Homo sapiens: one gene and its partner. The protein of the gene in region 1 purifies or fractionates together with the protein of each later gene. This does not show direct contact. Each region holds a gene or a part of one and is shown on either strand. Other genes may lie near its edges.

Region 1 (3,650 bases):
TTCTCCTGCCTCAGCCTCTTGAGTAGCTGGGACTATAGGCGCACGCCACAATGCCCAGCTAATTTTTGTATTTTTAGTAGAGACAGGGTTTCGCCATGTTGCCCAGGCTGGTCTTGAACTACTGCCCAGGCTGGTCTTGAACTACTGACCTCAAGAGATCCGCCTGCCTCGGTCTTCCAAAGTGCTGGGATTACAGGCATGAACCACACCACTCCCGGCTAACACAGAGCCACTTTCATTGTAACAATTTATTTATTTATTTTTTGGAGACAAAGTTGCGTTCTGTTACCCAGGCTGGAGCACAGTGGTGCCATCACAGCTCACTGCAGCCTTGACCTCCTGGGCTCAAACAATCCTGCCACCTCAGCTTCTCAAGTAGCTGGGACTACAGGGACATGCCACCACATCCAAATAATTTTTTATTTTTTAGTTTTTTTTTGAGACAGAGTCTCGCTCTGCCACCCAGGATGGAGTGCAGTGGTGCGATCTTGGCTCACTGCAAACGCCTCCTCCGGGGTTCATGCCATTCTCCCGCCTCAGCCTCCCCAGTAGCTGGAACTACAGGCGCCTGCCACCACGCCCAGCTGATTTTGTTTTTGTATTTTTAGTAGAGACGGGGTTTTACCATGTTAAGCCAGGATGGTCTCGATCTCCCGACCTTGTGATCCACCTGCCTCGGCCTCCCAAAGTGCTGGGATTACAGGCGTGAGCCACTGCGCCTGGCCTAATTTTTCATTTTTTAAAACTGTTTGTAGAGACAGGGTCTTGCCATGTTGCCCAGGCCAATTTCAAACACCTGGGCTTAAGCGATCCGCCCACCTCGGCCTTCCAAAGTGTAGGGATTATAGGCATAAGCCACTGTGCCTGGCCTTTTAACACTTTAAATTCATGTCTACCTACATCAAGTGAGTCCTTAATATTGCCTGACAGTCACAATACAGTTTCTTGGTACATTCCCTCTTCTAGATGCCTATTTTCATACCTTCCTTCTATTCATACCTCCAATATTACTTCCCCTGTGAGGACCTTGTTTTCTATTCCACTGAGAAAAGAGGAGCCAGAAAACAACCTCCACAAGCTCCCACCACGACACTACCACACTTCCCTGCAACTTGGCCCACGTATTCCATGAGTTCCCGCTGCTCTGAACCAGCAAAGGCCAGTATCTCCTACTACATCCTATCACTTTTCCCCAACCCAAAGGCATTTCTCCACTAAATCTCTCCTCTCTTTTCAACATCATCTATTTTCTTCTGTATCAGATCACTGCTGCCAGCACATAAATTTGCTCCAATTTCTACCACAAAAATCCTCTCAAGCCATACCCTCCCTCCATTTATCTGCTTGAGCAAAGTTCCTCTAAAGAGTTGTCTATACTTGGCCGGGCGCAGTGGCTCACGCCTGTAATCCCAGCACTTTGGGAGGCTGAGGCGGGCGGATCACGAGGTCAGGAGATCAAGACCATCCTGGCTAACACGGTGAAACCCTGTCTCTACTAAAAATATAAAAAATTAGCTGGGTGTGGTGGCGGGCACCTGTAGTCCCAGCTACTCGGGAGGCTGAGGCAGGAGAATGGCGTGAACCCGGGAGGCGGAGATTGCAGTGAGCCAAGATTGCGCCACTGCACTCCAGCCTGGGCAGCAAGACTCCATCTAAAAAAAAAGAAGAGTTGTCTATACTCATTGCCATAGGTTCCTTTCCCTTTTATTTTCTTCCCTACAATCAGGCAATTCCCCTACCAATCTAGCAAAACTATTTTGATAAGGTAATTCTACCTTGCTAAATCAGTCACTTCTAGTCCATATGTAACATGACCTGTCAGCAACATTTTTACTTTTTTATTAAAAATTGATTTGTGCAGGGTGCAGTGGCTCACACCCATAAGCCCTGCACTTTGGGAGGCTGAGGCAAGCGGATCACCTCAGGTTAGGAGTTCAAGACCAGCCTGGCCAATGTGGTGAAACCCTGTCTCTACCAAAAATACAAAAAATTAGCCGAGCATGGTGGCGCGCACCTATAATCCCAGCTACTCAGGAGACTGAGGCAGGAGAATCGCTTGAACCCAGGAGATGGAGGTTGCAGTGAGCCAAGACCACGCCATTGCACTCCAGCCTGGGCAACAGGGCAAGACTCCGTCTCAAAAAAAAAAATTATTATTATTACTATTATTTTTTGTAGAGACAGGGTCTCACTACATCGTTCAGGGTGGTCTCAAACTGCTGGCCTCAAGTGATCCTTCAACCTTAGCCTCCCAAGATCCTGGGATTACAAGCGTGAGCTACCGCCCCCATTCAAGTCAGCAACATTTGACACAGTTCATTATTCCTTCCTGGAAATACTTTCTTTAGTTGTCTTCTGGGATACCTCACTGCCTAGTTTTCCTGCTACTTCACTAGCTGTTCTTTCTCAGTCTCCTTTACTAGTTGCTTCCATCTTTCTCACCTCTAAACATTGGAGAGTACCAGAGTTTGGTCCCTGGACTGCTATTCTTCTTTATCTATGCTCTGATCTCACTTAGACTGACAGCTTTAAATACCTGGTGATATCCAAATTTATATCTCCAGGTAGGACCCCTTCCCTTAACTCTAGAGCTGTATCCCCAGCTGCCTTCTCAGTATTTTCCTTTGAAAATCTAACAAGCATCTCAAATTTAACACGGCCAAGTTAAAACTCCCCCTTTTCCTCCCCAAACCTGCTTTTCCCTAAAGAATCTCTTTATCAGTAAATGGCAATCTCATTCTTCCTGTTTTTAGGCCAAAAGACATATCTAGAACCAGACATAGAATCATCCTTAAGTCCTTTCTTTCATACTTCACATCTAATTCATCAGAAAATTATGTCTACTCTATCTTCAACTACTTCTCATCATGTCCATCACTATCTCCGTGGTCCAAGCCCCATCATTTCTCACTTGGATAATTCCAACAGCCTCCTAACTTCTCTGCTTCTGCCCTTGCCTCTACATAGCTTATTCTCAAAAAGGTGGCCAAAGTGGCCTTTTAAAACATTAATCAGTGTCACGCATCAGCTCAAGGCCTCCAATGACTTCTCATCAGAGTAAAAACCAAGGCCTTTGGAATAGCCCTTTAAAATGTGGACCCATCATTAACTCATTCACCTCAACTCCTTTTCCTTCTTTGTTTATTCTATTTTAGCAACCTAACTTTATGGACACACCAGAAATACTCCAGCTTTGGGATGCTTGCACCTGTCTGGAATACCTGTCACAGTGTGGTGTATTCTTTCACCTCCTGCAGGCTGTTCCTCAACTCTCACTTTCTCAGATCATCCTGTTTAAAACTGTAGCCTCTCTAGCATCCTCACACTTCAATCCTCTTTCCTTATTTTTCTCATAGTTATTATCAGCTGACATATCACTTATTATTTTTTCTTTTTCTTTTAGAGAGAGCCTCGCTTTGCTTCTAAGGCTGGAGTGCAGTGGTACGATCAAGGCTCAATGCAGCTTTGACCTCCTGGGCTCAAGTGATCCTCCCACCTCAGCCTCCTGAGTAGCTGGAATTACAGGTGTGTGCCACCACACTCGGCTAATTTTTAAAATTTTCTGTAGAGACTAGGTCTCACTATGTTGCCCATGCTGGTCTCAAGTGATCCTTCTGCTTCGGCCTCCCAAAGTGCTGGAGTTAAAGGCA
Region 2 (3,650 bases), on another chromosome or scaffold:
CGTCACCCTGACCCTGGTCACCCCATCAGCTGGGTCACCCCGTTACCCCCATGCCCCGGTCTTTCCGGTCACCTTGTCCCCTGCCTCGCATTGGCCGGCGGCCCCGTCACCCTGACCCTGGTCACCCCATCAGCTGGGTCACCCCGTTACCCCCATGCCCCGGTCTTTCCGGTCACCTTGTCCCCTGCCTCGCATTGGCCGGCGGCCCCGTCACCCTGACCCTGATCACCCCCATCAGCTGGGTCACCCCGTTACCCCCATGCCCCGGTCATTCCAGTCACCTTGTCCCCTGCCTCGCATTGGCCGGCGGCCCCGTCACCCTGATCCTGGTCACCCCCATCAGCTGGGTCACCCCGTTACCCCCATGCCCCGGTCTTTCCGGTCACCTTGTCCCCTGCCTCGTATTGGCCGGCGGCCCCGTCACCCTGACCCTGATCACCCCCATCAGCTGGGTCACCCCGTTACCCCCATGCCCCGGTCATTCCGGTCACCTTGTCCCCTGCCTCGTATTGGCCGGCGGCCCCGTCACCCTGACCCTGATCACCCCCATCAGCTGGGTCACCCCGTTACCCCCATGCCCCAGTCATTCCGGTCACCTTGTCCCCTGCCTCGCATTGGCCGACAGCCCCGTCACCCTGACCCTGGTCACCCCCATCAGCTGGGTCACCCCGTTACCCCCATGCCCCGGTCATTCCGGTCACCTTGTCCCCTGCCTCGCATTGGCCGACGGCCCCGTCACCCTGACCCTGGTCACCCCCATCAGCTGGGTCACCCCGTTACCCCCATGCCCCGGTCATTCCGGTCACCTTGTCCCCTGCCTCGTATTGGCCGGCGGCCCCGTCACCCTGACCCTGATCACCCCCATCAGCTGGGTCACCCCGTTACCCCCATGCCCCGGTCATTCCGGTCACCTTGTCCCCTGCCTCGCATTGGCCGGCAGCCCCGTCACCCTGACCCTGGTCACCCCCATCAGCTGGGTCACCCCGTTACCCCCATGCCCCGGTCTTTCCGGTCACCTTGTCCGAGTTGTTCTTGAGCTGCACAAACTTGCCCTCCAGGTCGATCTCCTCGATGCTGACGCTACCCGAGGCCGAGGCCTGCTGGGCCAGGTGGAAGCCACCGCTGCCACCCGTGCCCGTGCCCAGGACGCTTGGGCCGCTGCCCAAGGGCTCCTCCACCTCCAGCCGCTTCCGCTTACTGCGGCCCAGGCGCCCGGTGGCGGACAAGCTGCCGCTGCTGCTCGAGGTGGCTCGTGAGACGGTGACGCGCGAGGATGGGCTGGGGGACAGCTTCAGCCTGTGGGGAAGGCAAGGAAGGTGGGACTGGTAGTGGGAGCCCCAGACAGCCCAGGGCACGCAGAGTGGCGGCCACGGCCCGGCCCCACCTCCACCCCTGCCCAGCACTCCCCGCAGCCCCGTCCCGCCTCTCCTCCTGCCCTGCCCCTCCTCCTCACTCTGTGCTCCCAAGCCTCCTGGCCTGCCGCACCTCTCCTCCTCGCCCTCCAGGAGCTTCCGGTAGGCGTTGATCTCCATGTCCAGGGCCAGCTTCACGTCCAGCAGCTCCTGGTACTCGGCCAGCTGCTGCTGCATCACGTCCCGCATCTCCGTCATCTCCTGCTCCTTGGCGTCCAGCATCTTCCGGAACTTGTCCCGCTCCCCGGCCATGGCCTCCTCCAGCTCCCGAATGCGATCTTCAGCGGCACTGGCCTGCGGAGGGGGCGGGTGGCGAAGGTCAGGGCAGCCCATGGGTCACAAGGCCCAGGTGATCCTGGGACTGCGGGAGATGGGCCCTCACCACAGACTGGGGCAGAGACCAGGCCTGGGCATGGGGCGCACGGGAGGGGAGGGAAGGGGCATCGCTGGGCGCCCCGAGGGCTGCATCCGATGCCAAGAGGCCAGAGCCCCACGCCCCGCACATCCAGGGCAGGGCCCAGAAGTTGGGCCAGGGGGACGGCAGACGGTGGCGCTGTGCTCATCACCTGCTTCTGGAGGCCGGAGAGCTGGTAGCTGAGGGACTCCAGGCGCATGCGGGCCTCCTTCAGCTCCTCGCGAGCCGCACTGGCCGCCTTGTCGTTCTGGTCAGAGCTCAGCTTGGCGCTGTCCAGCTGTGGGGAGACGGGCGGGTGAGTGCGGGCGCGGGGCGGGGCGGGGTTCCCACCGGCCGCCCCCGCCCACCCGCCTGCCGGCCACACCTTGGCCTGGTAGGTCTGCTCCAGCTCCAGCTTGTAGAGCCGCACTTGCTCGTCGTGCTGGCTCCGCAGCTCCTCCAGCGCCTGTGCCATCTTGAAGTCGTACTCCTGCTGCCGGCTGCTGTCCACCTCCACCAGGCGCCGCTCGTGCCGCCGCCGCGTCTCCCGCACCTCCTGCGGACCAAGGCTTCGTGACCCTCTGGTCCCGCCTGGGCCCCAAGCACCAGGCCCAAGGGAGGGCTCAAAAATGTGCCAAGAGGAACCTCCAGGCAATTCCTGGTTCCTTGTGCACAAGTTACAAACCGATACACGTGCAGGTGAGAGGCGACCCAGGGGCCGTCCACGCGCTAGAACGTGACTCAGCCACGAAAAGGAGCGAGGCTCTGACACCGCCACAGCATGGATGCACCTTGAGGACGTCACACTCAATGAGAGACGCCAGACACAAAAGGCCACACGGTGCGTGATCCCATTTCCATGAAATGTCCTGAAATGTCCAGGACAGGCCCATCCACAGAGACAGGGAGGGGATGCGTGGGGGCCAGGGCTGGGGACTGCTGATGGGGAGGGGGTTCTTTTTGGGTGATGGAATGTTCTAGAATTAGAGGTGGTGGTTGCACAACCCTGTGGAGATCCTGCCAATGCTGAACTGTACACTTTAAAAAGGTGGACTTAAAATAGCCAGGTGTGGTGGCGGGCACCTGTGGTCCCAGCTACTCAGGAGGCTGAGACAAGAGAATCGCTTGACCTTGGGAGGTTGCAGTGAGCCAGGATCGCACCATTGCACTCCAACCTGGGTAACAAAGTGAGACTGCGTCTCAAAAAAAAAAAAAGTGACTCTCTCTTATAAAAGCCATTATTGAAGAAAGCGGGCCAGGCGTGGTGGCTCATGCCTGTAATCCCAGCACTTTGGGAGGCTGAGGCAGGCAGATCACGAGGTCAGGAGTTCGAGACCAGCCTAGCCAACATGGTGAAACCCCATCTCTATTAAAAATACAAAAATTAGGCCGGGCACAGTGGCTCAAGCCTGTAATCCCAGCACTTTGGGAGGCTAAGACAGGTGGATCATGAGGTCAGAAGTTCAAGACCAGCCTGACAAACATGGTGAAAACCCCGTCTGTACTAAAAATACAAAAATTAGTCGGGTTGGTGGCACCCGCCTATAATCCCAGCTACTCAGGAGGCTGAGGCAGGAGAATCGCTTGAACCCAGGAGGCGGAGGTTGCAGTGAGCTGAGATCATGCCACCGTACTCCAGCCTGGGTGACAGAGCAAGACTCCGTCTCAAAAGAAAAAAATTAGCTGGGTGTGGTGCTGTGCACCTATAATCCCAGCTACTCGGGAGGCTGGGCCCAGTGTGGGCAACAGAGCAAGACTCCATCTCAAAAACAAAACAAAACAAAACAAAACAAAACAAAAACAGTAGAAACGCTTCTGAAGGAAGCTGGCCACCTTTGCAGTCA

What was found. Proteins that work in one complex are often made in the same cells at the same time.
Region 2: the proteins of KDM3B (region 1) and LMNB2 purify together in Homo sapiens (affinity purification with mass spectrometry; one large-scale study listed by BioGRID and IntAct). This does not show direct contact.

What each region holds. Positions count from the first base shown.
Region 1 is NC_000005.10:138,394,124-138,397,773, reverse strand, and holds part of KDM3B (lysine-specific demethylase 3B), read right to left. Parts: intron 1-3,650. UniProt on the Homo sapiens protein: Histone demethylase that specifically demethylates 'Lys-9' of histone H3, thereby playing a central role in histone code. Demethylation of Lys residue generates formaldehyde and succinate. May have tumor suppressor activity.
Region 2 is NC_000019.10:2,432,810-2,436,459, forward strand, and holds part of LMNB2 (lamin-B2), read right to left. Parts: intron 2,363-3,650; coding exon 2,192-2,362; exon of another isoform or gene 2,105-2,191; coding exon 1,979-2,104; intron 1,707-1,978; coding exon 1,486-1,706; intron 1,297-1,485; coding exon 1,017-1,296; intron 1-1,016. UniProt on the Homo sapiens protein: Lamins are intermediate filament proteins that assemble into a filamentous meshwork, and which constitute the major components of the nuclear lamina, a fibrous layer on the nucleoplasmic side of the inner nuclear membrane.